2 separate regions of the Homo sapiens genome follow, and region 1 is linked to region 2. Evidence: fine-mapped expression QTL. A gene starts in region 2. The other region holds a variant in brackets. All regions are shown on one strand. Distances are between the middles of the regions.

Region 1 (11,257 bases), 27 kb before region 2:
GTGGCTCATGCCTGTAATCCTAGCACTTTGGAGGCCAAAGTAAAGATTGCTTGAGGCCAGGAGTTTGAGACAGGCATGGGCAACATAGGGAGATCCTGTTTTAAAAATAAATAAATAAATAAAAATAAATAAAAATTAGCCAGGTGCGGTGGCATACAGCATACACACCTGTAGTCTCAACTACTTTGGAAGCAGAGGCCAGAGGGTCACTTGAGCCCAGGAATTCAAGGTTGCAGTGAGCTATGATTGTACCACTGCACTCCAGCAAGGGTGACAGAGCAAGACCCTCTCTAAAAAAAAGACTCTAAGACTTACTAATGACTAGGATGTTGAAGATCCTTAAGGCCCACTATTTCCTGACTTCCTGACTCCTCTGGAAATCAGTAATGTTGTGTTAATGCCACGTGAGCCACAAGAATAGAGTTCTCAGGAGATGGCCAGGTTGAATCCGTCACTTTAGCTGCAGTGAAATTAACCTACCCTTTAACACCTCCTAATATTCTGGTCAGTAGTCTAGTATAAGTCTGTGCAAAACTTTTTAAGGTATGGTGAAGTAATTTAAGGCAGAATTTGATTTCCATTTAGAAATGGAAAAAGATTTCAAGACGATTTAAAAAAGAGAAACATTTCAATGACACAGAAAGGTAATGCTAAAGCTAAATTGTATCTTTTATGAGTCAAAGCAAGTTATAAGGCATCTTGTTAGGGGACCATAAATGTTTAGACATGAAGAATCTATTTTATTCACTATTCTTTTCATTTCAGCACACCAAAGAAAATTGAGCTGGCAAAAGATGAATCTTTCACAAGCAGTGATGATAATGAAAATGTAGATTTAGATAAAAGACTTCAATATTATAGATATCCGTGGTCAACTGTGCATCACCCTGCAAGGAGACCAATATCCATCTCCAGAGACTGGCATGGATATAAGAAGAAGAACCATACTATTAGTGTAGGAAAAGACATTAATTGTGACGTGATGATTCACAGAGACGACAAGAAAGAAGTGAGGGCCCCTTCTCCATACTGGATAATGGTGAAGCAAGACAATGAAAGCTCTTCCTCCTCTACCTCCTCTACCTCAGATGCATTTTGGCTGGAAGATTGTGCCCAAGTTGAAGAGGGTAAAGCCCAACTGGTATCAAAGGTTGGTTAGCAAATCTGTGGTCATATGAGCATTTATCTTGCAGACACCCAAGTTTTGTGCCTCACCAGGCACAAGTTTGCTGTACTTATCAAGGACTGTCTGTAGACTCACCAATTCTCTTCTCTTATGACTGCGTTATAAAGCCTTTAGAGATGTTCTTCAACAGGATTATCTAAAGACTTCCTTGGGTTCTTGCAGGCCTCACAAATCTTATTTTCAGAATAAGACCCTCCTTTTTGAGAAGAATTTCTTTCTTTTAGAAAATGCCGTAGAGAAATCCAATATCAGAATGTCTGAACATAGTAGAGAATGTCACTTTATGTAAACACTACATTTTTCTTTAAATATTTAGTTTCTCTCTTTTTTTTGGTAAACTTCAAGTACTATAATTAAAATAACTAAGAGACATAATTCTTTGGCTAGTTATTCACATTAGAATTCTTTTTTTTTCCCCTTTTTAGCCCTTCTTTTACTGTAAATGTTGAATTGAGAGTTAATTATTTGGAAGAGACAGGATAGTAACAGATAAGGGAGAGACAGGAGATGAGAGAAAAACAAAACTCTGTCAATGAAGATAAATCAGACATAAAAAAATGAATGAATGGGAATATAGGATATGATTGATAGGAAATGTATGTTTTTTGGAAATAATTTTATTGCAAAAAAGGCAAAACAGGGGTAAAAACCAGACCATTTAGCTGTTGACACCCAAAATGACAAATTTTGAACTTGCTTTCATCTTAAACGCCACCAATAGTAATCTGGCACTATTTACCCCGATAGCCACTTAGCCTTAATTTTAATAGTTTCTGATGCTTCTATACTCAATAATTATATTCCTGTCTCCTTTAAAGCATCTAAAACAAAGATATCAGCACATAATAAATACTTGTTGATTAACTCATTGAGAAAAACGTAAGAAAAACACTTAAACAGAATGTTTTATTGACTTTAGGTCAGCTGGGAATAATTACCTGCATTTATGCCTTATTTTACCTCACTGGAAAAAAGACAAATGATATATTAGAGACTTCTGACTTTCATGTGTTTGCTGCTCTGGGCTGAGAGAACGTTCAGCTCTCTCCTGTAATGTGTGCATCAGTATTACAACTCATCAACAAAAGGTGTATGTCCCAAATTTCCACTTGCTGCCATTGACTTCTGGCCAGAAACAAACTTCTTTGCCGCCTTTAAAGAAACAAACAAAAGACAAAATTAACAAAAATAAAAATATATATCATCAAGCAGGCGAACTTATTTTGTCATTTCAAGAATTTATGGATAGGACATTCTTTTTTTTTTTTTTTTTTTTGAGGTGGAGTCTCGCTCTGTCACCCAGTGTGGAGTGCAGTGCTGCGATCTTGGCTCACTGCAGCCTCCGCCTCCCAGGTTCAAGCAATTCTCTGCCTCACCCTCCCAAGGAGCTGGGATTACAGGCATGTATCACTATGCCCAGCTAATTTTTGTATTTTTAGTAGAGACGGGATTTCGCCATGTTGGCCAGGCTGGTCTCAAACTCCTAGCCTCAAGTGATCCACTCACCTTAACCTCCCAAAGTGCTGGGATTACAGGCGTGAGCCACCAACCTGGCCTTCGATAGGACATTCTAAGCCAGCAATTACTATAATAGCTGTTGTGAAAATTAACTAGGAGATGGCTGGTGCTTTAATTTGGGACAGTGTGGGAGGAAAAGCTTAGCTGTTTCTCTGAAAGTCCCATTGTATGTGTAATGAACCAAGCAAGAGCAACACTGGTAAGAGGGTAGCTGTTCAAAGAGAGATAAGGAAAACAACACTGACACTGTCAAATAGAGTAGTGTGGCTTCAGGCAGGGATATACTTTCCTGTTTCGGTATTACAATGGCAAATAGTCTGGGTCAATAAAAATACATTGATTGTTAACTTAAAAGTAAAACTTGATACCCTAGAGGATTCTTTATGCCACTACTTCCAAGTTCAAAGGCTGGTTAAGTGTAGTATCATGAGTCAGGTGTAGGTGGAGCAGCAGCCCCCATATTCTGTCAGGCCAGCTTATCTTATTACTATGAAGGAGAGGTGGTGGTGGAAGCAGTCGGGTTGGGACGCACATAATGATAGGATATAAGATGAAGACAGCCATTTAAAAGAGTACCAAATGGGCTGGGCGCGTTGATTCACACCTGTAATCCCAGCACTTTGGAAGGCTGAGGCGGGTGGATCACGAGGTCAGGAGATCGAGACCATCCTGGCTAACATGGTAAAACCCCGTCTCTACTAAAAATACAAAAAATTAGCCGGCCGTGGTGGTGGGCACCTGTAGTCCCAGTTACTAGGAAGGCTGAGGCAGGAAAATGGCGTGAACCCGGGAGGCGGAGGTTGTACTGAGCCGAGATCGCGCCACTGCACTCCAGCCTGGGCAACAGAGCAAGACTCCGTCTCAAAAAAAAAAAAAAGAAGAGTATGAAATGACGATTGGGGCGAAGTGAAATCAAGTCAGGGTTACTATCTTAAAATAGCCTTGTCTCTTTTTTATTTGAGACAGGGTCTCACTCTGTTGCCCAGCCTGGAGTACAGTGGCATGATCTCGGCTCGCTGCAACCTCTGCCTCCCAGGCTCAAGCCACCTTCCCACCTCAGCCCCATGAGCTCCTGAGTAGCTGGGACTACAGGCGCATGCCACCAAGCCTAGCTAATTTTTGTACTTTTTTGTAGAGATGGGGTTTTGCTACATTGCCCAGTCTGGTATTGAACTCCTGGGCTCAAGCAATCTGCCCACCTCAGCCTTCCAAAGTGCTGGGATTACAGGAATGAGCCACTGCACCCAGCTTAGTTTTTTATTTTTTCTTATCCCCACTGTCCCTATACAAGGTAGACCTGTTGGTGAGAAGATGGCCGAGACATCTACAGTAGAAAGCAAGTTGGCAAGTTTAATGTAGAAAATGGGGAAAACCCACTTACTTTGGATTAATTCTGTAGGTCATGTGCTTGTTAGGCACAGCAGGGAACACAAAGAAGTACATGACATAGTCCTTGCCCTCAAAACAGCTCAATATTGTAGGGAACAATAATATATGTGAAAAAAAAATTAGCAAGAACAAGAGAATGTCCTAGGCTGAGAAGAGTAAAGAAAATCTTAAGATGCTAGATGGTGAAATATTGCTAGGACTGAAGAGGAAAAATAGCAAACTTCACTATTTAGGTTGGATCATATGAAACTGCTAATATTTGACTCTTCTTTACTTCTAGTCATCTAACATAAGCCCATTTTATAAACTACCATTAGTTTAACCTAACGTTTGATACGTTAGGTGTATTAAATGCACTTTTGACTGCCATCTCAGTGGATGGCAGCCCTCTTACTGACATCACAGTTTAACCTAATGGTAGTTTATTTGAAGGAGGAAGATACATATACTCGAGCTGACAGGGAAGCTTGTTGCGGATCTTATGGGAATGAGCCCTCCTGCCTCCACATTAAGTAGATGAGCACCAAACATAAGAATAATACACTGCCCAAGGACGCTTATGCATCCTTCTGAAATTGGATCATTAAGGTTAAGTTCTCTGTTGTTAAATCGTTAAGTTTTCATTTACTTACATTTATGATATCAGCATTAGCCACTGAATCAATCTGCTGAAGGACTGTGGATGGTGGCATGTAAGAACCAGCAACTAGAGCCTGGGACCCGACTTCTTCCAGGAAACACTCAGAAGACTCCACTGACATTAGGTATCCAGCTTTCAGCTTGTTCCTGTCCAATAAAAGGCAGAAGTCAGTTTTAGAGAGCAAGGCAATTATTTTTTTTTTCTGAGTGGTGGCGGGGGGCTGTGAACATCAAAGCTTTATTTAATGGATAGAGTAACAGCGTGTCTCCCTCTTCCTGAATTCCCCAAGAAGAATGCCACTCCCTTCTCTGGAACATACTAAAACAGTAAGTCTGAAGGGAAGAAGTCTCTTCAGGGTTGCCAAAGTGTCCAATTGAGGGCCCACTTTGGCCTCCATTTGTGGGTCCATATGCTGCTACAGATTTGAGTGAGACAGCTGGAGAGCTCCCTAATGCTTCCCAAGGCCTCTGGATCCGGTTGTGCAATCTGGATCCTCTGCATGTCACTGGCCAGTCGCAGCATGCTCTTTCTCCTGCCCACTGGCACAGTGAGGAAGATCTCT[CTG/G]CTGTCAGTGAGAAGGCTGTCATCCACTGAGATGGCAGTCAAAAGTGCATTTAATACACCTAACGTATCGAACATCATAGCTTGGCCCAGGTTATCTCATATGTGCTCAGAACACTTACAATAGCCTGCAGCTGGGCAAAAGTCTTCTAACATAAGCCCATTTTGTAAGGAAGCATTGATTATCTCATGTACTGCATATCACTAGCCTAGGAAAAGATCGAAATTCAAGGTATAGTCATGTACTACATAATGATGTTTTTGGTCAATGATGGACCACATATATGATGGTGGTCCCGTTAAGATTATTAGGGAGCTGAAAGATTCCTATTACTTACTGACAACATAATGTTGTAGTGCAATTTTAAAAAAATAAATTTAGCGTAGCCTATGTTTACAGTGTTTAGTATCTACAGCAGTGCACAGTAATGTCCCAGCCCTTCCCATTTACTCACCACTCACTCACTGACTCACTCGAAAGCAGGAGCTATGCCATAAAAATGGCATACCATTTTTTTATCTTTTGTGCTGTATTTTTACTGTACCTTTCCTATGTTTAGATGCACAAATACTTACCTTTGTGTTATAACTGCCTACAGTATTCAGTACTATAGTACATGCTATACAGGTTTGTAGCCTAAGAGCAATAGACTATACCATAGAGCCCATGTGTGTAGTAGGCTATACCATCTAGATTTGTCTGAACACTGAGGTTCACACAGTGATGAAACCACCTAACACCACATTTCTCAGAATGTATCCCCATCGTTATGTGACCCATGACTGGAAGCTGAAATTGCGATGGTTTTCCTCCATAGTCAAGTTGAAAAATTATAATTGATCCATGGCAAGTTGGGGACAGTGTATATTGTAAACCTACCTTTTGGCTGCTACAGTGTGAAGACCAGGGATCTTGAAGAGCCTTCTGTCAAACCAGGGTGTCAGGCCTGTACTTGGTGTCACCACAGACAACTCCACCTGGCCCACAGCTGGGGTCACAGTGTTATAAAGGTCACAGTCTTGACCTTTTCCTTTTGCCTTTTCCTTGTATGAAGTGGGTTCTCTTCTTGGATGGAGGATACCGTTCAATGCTTGTAGTTTGAAGATTCTCATGTTTATTTTCTTCTTATGCTATCGTTTCACTTGTATTACCTGTGAGTTTTGGCAGGTTTCGGGGGTGTCTGAAGAGCTTCTGCTGTCTGTTTATTTCTGTGATATCCACTTCAGCTGTTGCTGCCTCTTTTAGGGCCTGTTTGTTTTCACCAAGGGTGAAGTAGTCAAGCCAGTTCCTCTTACACAGTGAAACAGGGCAATTTTAAGGTATGTGCCCCGAAACTCAACATATTTTTGGTAAACAGGCAAACTAACAACTTACAGTGCTAATGGCCTCCATTCTATTTCTTCAGTTCACCAAGTACGTGAACCGTTTACGTTACTATTTGGAAAGCTGTCAGTACGAAATTATACTGAAAACTCCACAGATTGCTTTTTGATTTGGGACTAGAACTTAGATCTAGGTAAAACTATTTTAATGTAAGGTTTTGATTAGTGAAGCAACTCCTGCCTCTTGCTGAGATTTGTCTGTGAGCATAGGGTATGATGGAAAAGGCAGGTGGGGAAGGGCAGTACAGGTCTTGTAAGCAACGGCAGCTTAAATATGGGCACAAAAGCATCCACTTGAAATAAAACAAAATCCAATTCACAATTCTCCCAGAAACTTATTACTTATAGACATGGTGTTTGATAAGACAGTCGAGTTATTTGAACCTCAAACGTTTATCATCCTTTAACACTCTACAGAAAGACTTCCATTTAAACATAATTACAATTTAATGCTGCAGTTTTACCACGTTGTCAGCTTAATTAAAAAATGATTTTACCTGCAATAAACTACCAAGAGGTTATTAGTGTGTCCTTTCGGCAATGACACCTCACTTTCTCTCTTTCACTACAGGAAGAACTTACAAGAAAAAGTATCAACTCCATCAAAATGGCAGAAAACATACTTTGACATTAATATTCAAAATTCTACTTTCTGCTTATTACCATACCTTGTAAGAACTGTGTTACACTTATTAAGAAAATACGTTTTCTTAAATAAATTAGATTTGAAAAACTTAGGTTTTTCTTAAGTAAATCCAGTGTTTCAATGTATTCTCATCATGTTTTGTTTCTGGTACAATCAAGCAGCCCTGCATCCTATCGATTCTTGGTTCTATGTATACAATATTTAATAAATTGTGTTGTACTTATACAAGAGATGCAACTTTGTAGTGTGCTCAGCATAACAAAACTAACAATACTAATGGGAACAGAAATGACCAAAAGGTTGTTCCATCCTGGGTTGTAATTCTGCTTCCCCTGTGGGCAATACTAAATGATCATAACGACCACTGGAGTTGCAAGATTCACATTTTGAATTGTTCTAAGTAGATGGAGTCAAACTTAAATGTCTTAAGCGGCTGTATGAAAATGCAGGTTGATTTCCAACTTTGTCCCAAGTCTGTCTCTTTTAGAGAAACCCTCGAACTACTAATGAATTAGGAGTGTTGATAGCACTTTCAATCTGGACAGTGGGGATTTATAAATTGCCAAATAGCAGACAAGTATTTTAGTCTTTCTTATAAAACAAAACAAAATCAGATCTTTTTTGGGTATAAATTAGTTATGAAGAAAGAAACTATTGTAGAATAGGTACTCTTATATACTGGTGGTATGATTATAAACTGGTACAATCTCTTTAGATTTGTGACTTAGAAATACATTTTTTTTTTTTAAGAGACAGGGTCTTGCTCTGTTGCCCAGGCTAGTGTGCAATGGCGTGATCTTAGTTCACTGCAGCCTCAAACTCGTGGGCTCAAGCAATCCCCCCTCTTCAGCCTCCTGAGTAGCTGAGGCTACAGGCACACACTACCACACCTGGCTAGTTTTAAATATCTTTTTGTAAAGACAGTGTCTTGCCACATTACCCAGGCTGGTTGAACTCCTGGCCTCAAGTGATCCTCCTGCCCCAGCCTCCCAAAGTCCTGGGATTACAGGTATGAGCAACTGCGCCTAGTCAAATGTATTATTTAAACATACACACATACACACACTCTAACATGGAGTCTTTCGTTATGTTTATAACTCTTAACTTAGTTGGGAATCTACACCAAGAAAGTAATACGAAACACAAAAATATTTTAAGCCCAAAGATATCTTTATAACTGCAGAAAATGCACAAGTGTATTTTGACACACCAATGAATATTGTTTAAATTTTTAGTAATTTGAATCAATGGAAACAGAATCATTGCTAGGGAAATCAGAGATCATTTTTGTCTTTTATTTGTAATTTTCAAACTTCTATAATAAGGATGCTATTTAAATAAGATAAAAAAGTATACAGATGGTCCCTAACTTAACTTATGATGGTTTGACTTATGTTTGTTTGGCTGGATGACTGGGTTATTAGGGTATTAAATGCATTTTCGATATGCGCATTTCTCAGGACGTAACCCCAGTGTAAGTCAAGCAGCATCTATATATACAATATTAACAATTATGTTTAAAAATGCATGATCAATAAACTAAGAAAAATGTTAACAATTATTCTCTAATTTTGGTGGAGACGAGGTCTTGCTATGTTGCCCAAGCTGGTCTCAAACTCCTGGTCTCAAATGAACCACCTGCCTTGGCCTCCCAAAGTGCTGGGATTAGTGAGCCACTGTGCCTGGCCAAAATGTTAACAATTATATCTTTAGGTGGTAGGATATGGGTATGTTTCCCTTTTTACGCTTTTCTGTACTTCTCAGTCCTTATGAGCATAGATTGTAATATTGTTATAATCTGAAAAGAATACAACTTTCAAATAACAAAAACATAAAACACAGTTAATACTGAGACTTACTTGGCAGCTTGGACATCTGTGTTGGAAAGGTTTCCTTGAGCTATTGTTTTTACTTGATTATAGGCAGCCTTGATAACCTAGGACAGATAAGAAAAGTTGGTCATCTGTGGTCAGTACCAGAGTCTCCTGCAGCACTGACACACTTCTTTACTGAGGCAAAAACACAGATGGAAGGTTAGTTCCAGACAAACAGCACAGTGTCCATGCGGAATGCTGTCATCACTATGGGTTCCTTATTCTTCCTATGTTCATAAAGCAGCTGTTTATACACAATCCTCCTGCCCCAGCCTCCCAAGAAGCTGGGACTACAGGTGCATGCTACCAGGCCTGGCTAATTTTTTAGCTTTTTTTGTAGAGATGTGTGGGCTCAAGTGATCCTCCCACCTTAACCTCCCAAAGTGTTGGGATTATAGGTGTGAGCCACCACACCCGGCCAAACACATGGATTTCTAATCACCCATAAAGAATAAGCACCTTTAAAACTTCCCCAGACTCTTGCAGTGTCATGCCATTAATACTGCTATCTCTTACTATTCACTAAGAAGAGAGTAGTAATCCATACACAGCCAATTTGTAAGGCTTGTCCATACTTTGTAAGCCAGGGTCAAGAAGGAATCTGAATCCTTGTATGGTATTTAAAAAAAGAAAGAAAGAATAAAGTTCCGGGGATGTGGGTACTTGGTAAATATTTGTTGAATAAATAAATAAATCTGACCATGATTTTCTCCATCCCAGTGCTGGCTGGGTCTGCTACTTATTTTTCCCTCTGATCACCTAAATTCTAGGACCTCTGTTTCCCCTTCATTTTAGCTGCCCATTTTCAGAGCCACACCCCAGACCTGATCATAGCCTAAATTTGCATACCTCTGAAGCCCTCAATTCTAAGACCCCGACCTCAGTCTTTAATCTCACTATCCTTATTCTTCCACTTTATCAAGATCTCTAGTTCCTTGACTTGTCCAGTCTTTCAATTTATCAGGCCCCCTCTGGCTTCACTTCTCTATTGAGCCTAGATCCCTGAATCATCCTTTTAATCACTCTTGCCAATGCTCCCAACTCCCTTGCTATCTCCTCATACTTCTCACCTGCCCACTTTGCAGGATTCCAACCTGGGATTAACCCTAATACCTACCTCCTCCATTTCTCTATTAGGCTTCTGAATGCAACTGAAGAAAAATTACATGACAGTGCTGACTGACTGTACTATGAATTTGTGGTCGCTGATTTCAAGGATACATCTACACTACAGCGAATACCCACTTTTTGTGTACCTCACTATTTGTCTGTCCCAAACTTCACTACTTTCTTTAAACTTTCCTCTCACGTCTGTCAAAACATGACTTAGCCTCCTGTCTCACTGAGGAGGTACTTCCCCATCTTCCCAATATCTTCCAATATTAGCCTGTCTGTAAGGCTAAAAGGTCCACTTGTGTGCTGGATCCCAAGTATTCCTTTCTCAGACTTGAGCCATTTATAATTTTCTATCTCCGATATCTGCTCCGATCTTTTTGCTCAGTATGTCTCTTTCAACCTAATCTCTCAGTGTAAACTCTCCTAAAACAACTTGCTCCTTGAATGTCTAAGCTCCACTAGCCCACACCAACCTCTCATTTCTTACTTGTCATTCATTCCTTAATCACTACACATTTTACCCAATTTCCACTACTCTAGTCAAAACTGTTAAGATCACCCATGATGTCCTAGCTTGCTGAAACTACCAGACTTCTCAGTGGTAATGAATGTTATTTCACTGTGGGTCAAAATGGTGTTAAACATACTCTCTTTCCTATCCTTCAAATATATCAGCTTCTCTTTTTCTTTCTGTTTACCTGGGCCATTTTTCTTAGCCACTTGCTCCTTAAATGGTGTTGTTTCCCAGAAATTGAGCTTTAGTTTTCTTTTCCTACAATCATTCACACATATCCCTGATTTCAACACAATCTCTACACTGAAGACTTGCAAATAAACCTCCTGGTCTTCCCCTCTCCTGGGTTCTCAATTTAGATGTCTCAGAGCCAACTCAATGCAACTTGTCCAACCAGAACCAAAACATGAAGGAGGCAATTCTCTCCTCT
Region 2 (11,257 bases):
TTGTGAGCAGATTTAAAAAGAATTTTACTAAATTCCTGCATCCTTTTTAGTTAAGAATTATAAAACAAGGCTCAACAAAAAGCTTAAGTATACATTTTTACATTAAGTACATTCATGTAAAATTTCCACTGTCAAATACAAGCTTACTGGATTCATTAGTCTATTCTGAAAGAGACTTGTATATGGGAAAAAAAGAGTTAATTTTCTTTCAATTTGCGGCACTTCCTGTTAAAAATTTGTTTACTGATTTCTTATGCTCTAACATCAACATTCATATGGATACTAATTTAGTGCTTCTCTGTGGCAAATATCTTGTGGTTTCTCATTTTACATTAGGGGACAGTACTGGGTTTAACAGTGTTCCCCCCCAAATTTATGTCCAGCCAGAATATTTGCATGTTACTTTATTTGGTAATAAGGTCTCTGCAGATTTAAGTACTTAAGATGACATCATATTGAATTATAGTGGGCACTAAATCTAATGTAACTGGTATCCTTATCAGGAGGAAATGTGGACACAGACAGAAGGAAGGCCATGTGACAACAAAGGCAGAGACTGCAGTGATGCAGTTGCAGGTCAAGGAACATGAAGGGTTGTGGGCAACTGCTGGAAGCTAGGAACAGGCAGGGGAGGATTTGTGCCTTCCTAGAACCTTTAGAGGGATCACAGCCCTGCTGATATCTTGGCTTGGCTTAGACACCTTGACTTGGACTTCTAGCCTCTAGAACTGTAACAGGATAAACTTATTTGGTTTAAGCTACCCAGTCCGTGGTAATTTGTTATGGCAGGTCAAGGAATCAAAATATAAAGACATTGATCTTAGTTTTTCTTTTTCACAGGACCAAGATACCACAGCATTTCCAAACACTTGAGGAAGTGAAGATACTCACCAGACTGGATGTAAGACGCAGCAAATGGGTGGTTCCTAAATTGCTGAAGTCCTCATATCTACTGCCTGCTTTAATGAACAAACCAATTCTTGATACAGGAGAATAGTTTTCCAAAGAAGCAATCACCAAGCCATTTGGTAACTTGGTAAACTGTATTTAAAATAAAGTAGAGATATAATGAATGTCTTCGTATTACCAAGGAGAGTAAGGCATGTATAGCTTCCAGCGAGCAAGTTAGTGGGACTAACCTCAAGGTCCTGAGGTTGTGGCGGTGCTCCTGCAGGCGCAGCTGTGGCTTTAACTTTGGGGGCAACTTTGAGGGAATAAAATCTCTAAACATAAAAAACACAGGTTACACGTATTTCTCACAAGAACAGTGCTTTATATAAAAGCATGGTATCTTAGGGTACCCAAGCGACAGAGGGTGTTCGGGGGTGGAAGGAGCAATAACCACCTCCATGGGAGGATTTACCTGCATAACATTTTTTTTTTTTTTTTGAGACAGAGTGTCTCTCTGTCGCTCAGGCTGGAGTGCAGTGGCGCAATCTCAGCTCACTGCAACCTCTACCTCCTGGGTTCAAGCCATTCTCCTGCCTTAGCCTCCCAAATAGCTGGAATTACAGGTGCGTGCCACCATGTCCAGCTAGTTTTTGTTTTGTATTTTTTAGTAGAGATGGGGTTTCACTGTGTTGGCCAAGCTGGTCTTGAACTCCTGATCTTAAGTGATCTGCCCACCTTGGTCTCCCAAAGTGTTGGAATTACAGGCGTGAGCCACTGCACCCCGCCTAGCTGCATAACTTATTATGGACTTACTAACCCACCAGTTTACCCAAGCCATTCTTAAACCTCTATTTATTAGTGATTTATAGAGTTCTTGATGCTTATTTTTTAAATGATGTAAAGAATCACTGTATTTTCTTATCTTTCAGTTACCTTATAAAAGTTTCATGGTTCTGTGTAGTTCTAAAGCTTTGGCATTTTTTGAAAAAGTGTCAGATCACCCCATCCACAACCTTTTTTGTTGAGTTGGAGTCGTGCTCTGTGTCCCACGCTGGAGTGCAACAGTGCGATCTCGGGTCATTGCAATGTCTGCCTCCTGGATTCAAGCGATTCTCCTGTCTCAGCCTCCCAAGTAGCTGGGATTACAGGTACATGCTGCCACGCCTGGCTAATTTTTTGTATTTTAGTAGAGATGGCGTTTCACCCCATAGCTCAGGCTGGTCTCAAACTCCTGAGCTCAGGCAATCCACCCGCCTCGGCCTCACAAAGTGCTAGAATTACAGGTGGGAGCCACCACACCTGGCCTGTGTCCACAACCTTTTATAGGTTTCAGCTTCTTGCTTCTTTTATCTGCCCAATGAATGTCATCCGTTCAGTCTAATTTCCAATTGAAATGGTTTCATCTCCTTAATCATCTTAGTAACCTTTAAAAAAGACAAACTAGCCGGGTGCGGTGGCTCACGCCTGTAATCCCAGCACTTTGGGAGGCCAAGGTGGGCGGATCACCTGAGGTCAGGAGCTCGAGACTAGCCTGACAAACATGGAGAAACCCCATCTCTAATAAAAACACAAAATAAGCGGGGCGTGGTGATGCATGCCTGTAATCCCAGCTACTGGGGAGGCTGAGGCAGGAGAATCACTTGAATCCGGGAGGCGGAGGTTGCAGTGAGCCGAGATTGTGCCATTGCAGTCTAGCCTGGGCAACAAGAGCAAAACTCCGTCTCAAGAAAAAAAAAAGAAAAAGACAAAGTATATACCAACTTCCTCCAAGCCCTCAATATTTTCCATTGTATCTTCACTCTTGTGTGCTGTATTAAGACCACACAACCAAAGGTCTTAGTTTTTTTGACTAAATAAAACATTTATGACATGTATGTCATCCTGAGATTAATAATGGCTTCATCCACATCAGATTCTCAATATATAAAATGCAGTTACTGGTAGGGTGAAAGGGTCCCATTAAATATTAGATAATGGACCCAAAATGCATTCATTTTATTCAGTTTGTTTTGGCAAATGTTATACAATGCCATACAAATCATTCTGATTATGACTAAAGTTCATGAGGTTATTAGAGGAGATGATGAGTGAATAAAATTTGGTGCTCCCAAGACCCAATGAACACCTCCTCACTGGAGTTTCCCGGACATCCCTGCACAGTCTGCAATGCCTCCACTCTGTGCTGTCCAGAAGGCTGTTTGTTGTACATCATTAGTGCTGTACTAGGTTGGCTGCTGGTTATCACTTGCTTTTAGTACTGCTTTTCAGTTATGAATTACAATTAGCTTTACTTTATCGTCATCAATTTAGTTTGCTGGGTATGGTATAGTTAACCTTCTTTGTAATTTTGGCCTATAATTTTCCAAAAAGTAAACTTTTAAGATATATGGGCATAGCAATTCAAATATGAATAATCTATAATTCCGTTACCAAGTGAGATTTTAGGTGTTTTCCAACCAAATGTGCCCAAATAGTAACTCTTTGTTGGTAATTTTTTTTTTTTTTTTTTTTTGAGACGGAGTCTCGCTCTGTCGTCTAGGCTGGAGTGCAGCGGTGCGATCTCGGCTCACTGCAACCTCCGCCTCCTGGGTTCAAGAGATTCTCCTGCCTCAGCCTCCTGAGTAGCTGGGATTAGAGGCGCCCACCACCACCACGCCCGGCTATTTTTTTTTTTTTTGTATTTTTAGTAGAGACGGGGTTTCACCATGATGGCCAGACTGGTTTCGAACTCCTCATCTCAAGTGATCCGCCTGCCTCTGACTCCCAAAGTGCTAGGATTACAGGTGTGAGCCATCGCGCTCCGCCGGTAATGTGCTTCTTAATCGTCCCATTCAAATCAGCAAATTATCCTAGTAACTGTCATGCAATCTTCTAAATTATTTTGTTCTAATAACAAGATATATCTAAGTTTATTCTCCTATATAAAGTGCTAAAATTAGACACATAAATAATTGCTTTCAAGTTTACTGCAATTTGTTTACTTTGGGCCTCTCCAACTGTTTTCTCTGAGCTTTTTCTGTTGCAAAATAGAATGGAGAAGGAAATGTTGGGGTCTTTTGCCAATCTAACCGTGCTTCCCTCCAAGGGTAATCACTGGTGTGTCTAGGTATACCTGGAAGGTTAATGCAATTACAGCCTAAATCGATATAGCCCACAGCACATTTATGTAAACATAAAGCATAAGAACATTCCATGCCCAGGTCTGGTCTTCTGCATCTCCATCTAGGGGGGTTTCTCAACACAGGTACTACTACTGGCACTTGGGGCTAGATAATTCTTTGCTGTAAGGCGAAGTTTAGCAGCATCCCTGGCCTCTCCATGCCAATAGCACCCTCCTTACAAGTTGTTGCAACTAAATATGTCTCCAAACATCGCCACCGGTTCCCTGGGGGCATTCTGTCCCTCGCTATGATTTTTTAAGTGTTCCCCCTTACCCCTCTTAATAACCACTGTCCCACAGTGATATAACCCTGATGTGTGAGTTTTCCCCAAGTGACAGCTATGTTTAATTTAGGCTTGAAGGGGAAACTTAATTAAGGAGCTTTTGAGGACAAACAGAGACGTCTTGGAGGAACCGTCTAACATACGATCAAGAAAAGCAACGTTAGACTACTAAGACACCATAGTATTTAACAATGAAGTTCCAGGTACTGTAATAAGTGTTCTATCTGCATTAGCTCCTTTCTTATACTTTTATTCGCTGGGGAAACTGACGCTCCGTGATAAACCAAGGAGCAGAGGCTGCAGCGGATAAAGTGAAGGTGGGGGGCTAAGTGCGCCGTCCTCCCGCTCCCCCTGGGTTTCACGGTCTCTTTCTCCAGCACTTGAGTACCGGAGTGACCTTCAGAAGTCTCTCCAAGGACTCGCTTCAACTCCGCTCTCACGTCCTGCCCCTCTCTTCAGGTTTCCCGGTGTTAGGTCTCTTGTGCTCACAGCATGAGCTGGGCCTCCAAAGCCTGACCCAGTCTGCAGCCCACTTGGCCCGCAGGGTTCAGCTGAAGGGCAGACCGAATCCCAAGGCCCAGACCCCAGACCAGACACCTCCGCCTCGTATCACCTTGTCGACACACTGCTCCCCAGCCCTTTCCCAAACCCGCCACCTGAGCTCACCGAGAAAGAGCCGGCTCTGGTTAGTAGCTTCATGATTCAAGATTGTTCTGACACACGGTCACTGCCGGATTAAAGGAAAGCAAGATGGTGGCGGAGGCCGGGAGTTTCCCAGCGTTCCCCGCTAACACTTTCCCACGTCCCCTTCGTGAGGTACTCTCTATACTGCCGCGCTCTACTGCTCTCTTTATAAGGTTGGACCAGTCCAATTCCTCCAAGACTCAGAATAGGGAGACGCACAATTTCCCAAGTAAATATATGCAGAGAATAATGTACGTCACTGCTTTTTGCGTTCTTCTCCTAGCCTGAATATCCAGTATGCACCCCTTTTCTAAGTACGTCTGCAGCAGCCTGTCACAACTCCCCCCGCTATCTTGGGCTCTTCCGCTCAGCATTGTCCAATGGGACGCGCCTCTCTTGGGACTCCGCATGCGCCCTCCGGGATGACACCTGCACTGGAGGCCCTGGGTTTCCGCGTTCCTGGACGTTGGAGGCTTCAGGAGATTCCTGCCACTCCACCTTTCTGCAGAGGTATTGGGTATCGAAGCCCGGCGTAGTTGCCTCTCGCTGGGTGAAGTCCTTACTGGATCTTTAGCTCCGTGAAACAGGGGCCTCGTTCAACGTATTCGCCGCTGTGTCCCCCAGAGCAGGCCCGGGACACACCGGGAGGGTCAGCAACCTCGGGGAATCATCACAAGGCTTTTGGTCTCGTGGAATTTACGTCCTAGGCTGGGGCTACATAGAATATAAAAACTTAGCTATAGTTTTTGTGTTAGGAAAATAGAAATGTTTTGGATAGTAGGTGTGTTATGTGAGCCGAAACCGGCAGTTGGAGAAAGTCAGTCACGTGACGACTTGGGGCGGGGGCGTTCACTCCGGTCCTCAGCGAGTGTTAACCCAGAAAGTGCCTTGAGCTAGGCACTATGCCAACGCGAGAGGCGTGGTCCCTGCCCTTTAGGGACTTTAGAGTTTCGTACCTTGCTACGTTGCTTGGTTGGGAAACCGACAGTATCAGCATCAATATCATTTAGGAGTTGATTAGAAATGTATGAACTCCAGGTCCCATATTGGATCCGAATCGGTGTTTTTACAAGATCCTGGGATGACTTCGTATGCACAATAGTTTCAGAAAGGCTGGTGGTGTAGACGTTACAAGGCATAGGCAAATGTACTTTCTTTTTGCCTTGTGTCTGAATTGCTCCAGGCCTACAACGGACTTGGGCTCTCTAATTAAGATCTGGGCATTAAGAACCTGGCACCAACCCAATTTCTGTGCCTGCTGGGGACGCCCTCAACCCAATTCATACCACACAGTTTCCCCACATGTGGTAGATTTAACACTAGTGGTGCGTGAGATGATTTTAAGTTGGTACATAGATGAACACTTCCATTTTTTCCTTTTAAAAATTTGTATAAATTTAAGGGGCGCAAGTACAGTTATGTTATATGGATATATTGCAGTAATGGTGAAGTCTGGGCTTTTAGTGTACCCATCACCCGAATAATGTACATGGTACCCATTAAGTACTTTCTCATCGTTCACCTCTCTCCCACCCCTCCACCTTTCGGAGTCTCCATTGTCTGTCATTCCACACTCTATGTCCATGTGTACACCTTATTTAGCACTGTTCCATTTTAATAATATATTTATTTTGATTATGGCAAGCAATGCTAGTAGTGAATTTCCTCTTTAAGTACATTTATAAAATAATAAAAGTTGGTGTAAAAACGTTAAGTAACTTGATGATACGGAGATACAGCAAAAATCATGAATGTGTTATACAGGTACCATTGAGTGAAATCTGGGAAGCAGTGCTCTGATCAAGCCACCTGCCTGCTTAAAATTCTTCAACGACAGCCACGTTTTTCAGGATAAAATTCAAATTCATTAACATGGCATACAAAGCTGTCTCCAGTACTTCAAAACCCCAATTCCCAAGTTAGCTAGCTGCACCCCTGAGTCCAATCATTGTAACTTCATCATTCAACAGTTCAGGTCAGGTAGGAGGAACACAAAAGTCTCCACACTCAAGTGCACACACACACACACACACACACACACCCACACCTGCTTATAATGTCCTCTCATTCTTAGGTTATGACCCAATATCAGAAAGGGGCAAAAATAAATTCTGTTCAAAATGTGGCAGGATTTGAAACATAATTCATGATATCAGCTACATAAATCATAAAATCCCAAGTTTGTCAATTGCAAAATGTCCTATTAAGCATTAAGCTACAAATTAGGAGTGCCATCTTGTGGACACATCCACCACTTCCACATCATGTCACCTCCTAGCCAACTCCGTGGCTGTTCTCACTGTGGAGGTCTCTGCCACAACTCCAGCATTTTATTGCAGAAGAAAACCCAGTCCTTGAACTGGTTTCTGCGTAGAACACACTGAAAGCCCTGGGAGAGGAAACCAGCAGACAGGAAAAGAGTAGACATGGAAGAGCAGATGAGTTCATTGCTGGAAAGCTCGAATTGTTAGTTTCGTTAATGTGGGGTCCAATTTGACTCTATGGAGCCTAACTACCTAGCCTGAGCGCTCGCGGTGAGTATGGGGTGGGAGAATGTAAAGAGAAAGCAGGCAACAGTAGGAGTAAAACACACCAGAGGAAGGTGATGTGGGTTTATACTTGGGAACAACATTACCTTGCCATCTTAGGGCCAGAGGCATTAATCATGGCTTCCCCAATGCATAATTTCGATGTTGGCATTTCCTTCCCCATTCCTTTCAGAATCCTACCCTGTCAGGTATTATCTCTGATGAAATATTCCCTGGGCCAGGCACAGTGGCTCATGCCTGTAATCCCAGCACTATGGGAGGCCAAGGTGGGTGGATCACCTGAGGTCAGGAGTTCAAGACCAGCCTGGCCAACGTGGCAAAACCCTGTCTCTACTGAAAAAAAAATACAAAAATTAGCCGGGCATGGTGGCAGTTGACTGAAATCTTAGATACTCGGGAGGCTGAGGCAGGGAGAATTGCTTGAACCTGGGAGGCGGAAGTTGCAGTGAGCCGAGATCACTGCCATTGTACTCCAGCCTAGGCGACACAGCGAGACTCTGTCTCGGGGGGGAAAAAAAAGTTCATATCAATTTCTAATATTCTATAATTATTGTTTTTGGTCACATATACTTTTTCCATGTATTGAGGTGAACAGATTGGTCTTATTCTGTGTTAAGTTATATTGATTGATTCAAATTATAAATAAACCTTTCATTCCTGTTATAAACCCAACTTGGTCTGGATGTTTTATTCTTTTAATATATTGCTAGACCTAATTTGCTACTTATTTGTTTAGGATTTGTGCATTTATGTTCCAGAGTGATACTGGCTTTAACTTTCACTTTCATTCCCCCCATTCATGCATTTTTCTGTCATAGATAAAATGAGTTAGGAAGTGTGAAAGGAAAAAAAATCTCAGGGCCTCCAAATCACTAAGCCAAAGGGAAAATTCAAGCTGGGAATGATGTCAGACAAACCTGCCTCCCGTTTTATTCCTAAATAAGATAGCTATAAGGATAAAAAGCTACATAACTTACCTTACAATTTGCCCACAGGGCAATTCCATGTGGATCTGAGGATCTTTACCCTAAAACAGTTTTGTTGAATTTCACCCTGGCAATGTAAATTGATAGCTGTCTTCCTTCCTTCCTTTCCTTTTCTTCCTTTCCTTTCTCTCTCTCTCTCTGTCTCTCTTTCTCTGTTTCTCTCTCTCCCTCCCTTCCTCCCTCCCTCCTCCCTCTTTTTTTTTTTTTTTTTTTTTTTTTTGGAGAGTTTCACTCTTGTTGCCCAGGCTGGAGTGGAATGGCATGATCTGAGCTCACTACAACCTCCACCTCCTGGTTTCAAGCAGATTTTCCCACCTCAGCCTCCTGAGTAGCTGAGATTACAGGCATGTGCCATGATGCCTGGCTAATTTTGCATTTTTAGTAGAGACAGGGTTTCACTATGTTGGCCAGGCTGGTCTCGAACTCCTGACCTCAGGTGATGCACCCACCTCGGCCTCCCAAAGTGCTGGGATTACAGGTGTGAGCCACCGCACCAGGCCTGATAGCTTATTTTCACAGGTGCAGGACAAAGGACAGAACTCAAAGTCCATCTTAAACAAATGTGTATCTGATGGCTTCCTCTGCCCTATTGTTTACATTGTATTATGTAAAAAAAATGAAGATTCTCTGAGCCAGACAATGACATAAGTGAGTATTCCTCTGCCCATCCTCTCACATGTAAATTGTATATTCAGTGAAAGGCTGATCAAAGACTCAAGGGGATGCAACCCTTTGTCTCTTGTATACCCACACATTTTTAAATTTTTTCTTTTTTTTTTTTTTTTTTTGAGACGGTCTTGATCTGTCACTCACGCTTGAGTGCTTCCAGTACTTCCTGGGCTCAAGTAGTCCTCCCACTTCAGTCTCCTGAGTAGCTGGGACCACAGGCATATGCCACCACATCTGGCTAATTTTTGTATTTTTGATAGAGATGGGGTTTTGCCATGTTGCTCAGGCTGGTCTCAAACTCCTGACCTCAGGCAGTCCACTGGACTGGCCTCCCAAAGAGCTGGAATTAAGATTTCAAATTTTCTTCCTTTTCACCCATATCAATCCTTTCTCCTTAAATATTGAAGCCCTTGAAATCATCTTTGGAGAAAGGCATAGACATACCTCTCAGGCGCTTATCCTTAACCTTGGCAATGGAAACTTTCCACATTGATTGAGACCTGTCTCAGATACTTTTGGTTCACAGAAGTAAACGTCTTTTCCCAGCTTTCGTATATTTTGCGTGCTCCCTTTGATTCTGTCAGGCTTTTATTTTATTCTTTATTAGGGTGGGTCTATTTAGGTTTTTGATCTTATTCTAGGACATGATCTTTACTTCTAAGGCATGGCTTTTCTGGAGTTATAACTGTAAGGGGTGCTCAGTAAGGTATCTCTACTGTGGCTCTCAGTAAGAATTCCGACATTTTCTGCACTATGTAAACTCTGGGTCTACCTTTGTTACAGGTAGTTAGACAGGTATGAGCGGGACAGGAGAGGGCTCTCCCCCCATCCACCAGGAATGTCGGGTGATGATTTGGCAGTTATCACATTGCCTCTCTAAGTGATAAATTGGGCCAGGCGCGGTGGCTCAGACCTGCAATCCCAACACTTTGGGAGGCCAAGGCGGGCGGATCACCTGAGGTCGGGAGTTTGAGACCAGCCTGAACAACATGGAGAAACCCCATCTCTACTAAAGATACAAAATTAGCCAGGGATGGTGGCGGGTGCCTGTAATCCCAGCTACTCGGGAGGCTAAGGCAGGAGAATCACTTGAACCCAGGAGGCGGAGGTTTGGGTGAGCCGAGATCGCGCCACTGCACTCCAGCCTGGGCAACAAGAGCGAAATTCTGCCTCAAAAAAAAAAAAAAAAAGATAAATTGGAGAGGCCATTTCCTGATAGTCCACACCCGTTGCACTAAATTAACAGTGTTAATTGAATGCAGACACCAGGGAGAAGCAACTTCCTGGGCATGTGCATTAAGAGACAAAATGGCGGAGTATGACTTTCCAGGGTTACTCCACCAGAATAGGGAAGAAAGTCTCAGATGGGCATGGGTACAACTTCTTAAACACGCTGCGCATGCTCACCTCCAACGGGTGAGGGGGGTACCAGGCATGCGGGCAGCCCACCCTAAGGGAAGAATCATGAGAAAGGGGCCAGCCTATAAAGATTACTGTTAAACAGAGCGCTTGACCTCAGTGCCTGGTTGGGTCTCTTCCAAGCATACTTTCCTTTCCTTTTTTATCCTGTTCTAAAGCCTTTTAAATAAACTTCCACTCCTGCTCTGAAACTTGCCTTGGTCTCTTTTTCTGCCTTATGCCCCTCTGTTGATTTCTTTCTTCTGAGGAGGCAAGAATTGAGGTAGCTGCAGATGTACACAGATTCACCGCCAGTAACTCAGATATCGTCCACCGGTAACACATTCAGTTCTCAGTCTAGCAGGTGCCATTCTCTGATAGGCCTCACAGCATCTCTCCCTTTGCACATGGCACAGGCCAGCTCATGACTCACAGCAAACCCCATTCAAATTTCTGGGCCCCCGCTTCGTCTTTATCATCACCCTGCTCTTCAAATTCTAGCTGCTTTAGCAATCCTAAACTCCCTCTTAATTGATCCCTTTTGAGGTTCAGAAGCTACAGTTCAAAAAAACCTAAGATTTATTGTTCCATTTCTGCAAAAGGACGACGTGAAGCTACATTGATCTGCCTTACTAC

What was found. PIP is the estimated chance that this variant, and not a neighbour inherited with it, causes the effect. A credible set is the group of variants that fine-mapping cannot tell apart.
Region 1: its variant is the best candidate, but not a certain one, in a credible set for the expression of UQCRC2 in whole blood (INTERVAL, PIP 0.62).

Annotation. Positions count from the first base shown.
Region 1 is chr16:21,974,169-21,985,425 of GRCh38, reverse strand. UQCRC2 (ubiquinol-cytochrome c reductase core protein 2) reads right to left here. Exons shown (of 14, transcript NM_003366.4): 12 at 9,183-9,259; 13 at 4,726-4,879; 14 at 1,766-2,338. The coding sequence ends at 2,255. It overlaps PDZD9 (PDZ domain containing 9), which reads left to right. Exons shown (of 4, transcript NM_001363519.1): 4 at 766-1,561. The coding sequence ends at 1,159. It also overlaps the pseudogene LOC100420644. Among named protein-coding and RNA genes, the nearest start is that of PDZD9, 21 kb to the left of the region's middle. The variant CTG/G (reference allele first, on the strand shown) is at 5,296.
Region 2 is chr16:21,947,201-21,958,457 of GRCh38, reverse strand. UQCRC2 (ubiquinol-cytochrome c reductase core protein 2) reads right to left here and starts at 5,097. Exons shown (of 14, transcript NM_003366.4): 1 at 5,002-5,097; 2 at 1,140-1,223; 3 at 892-1,041. The coding sequence starts at 5,034. It also overlaps a transcript of PDZD9 not described here. RefSeq lists enhancers at 4,755-4,804, 4,815-4,984, 4,499-5,216, 5,305-5,764.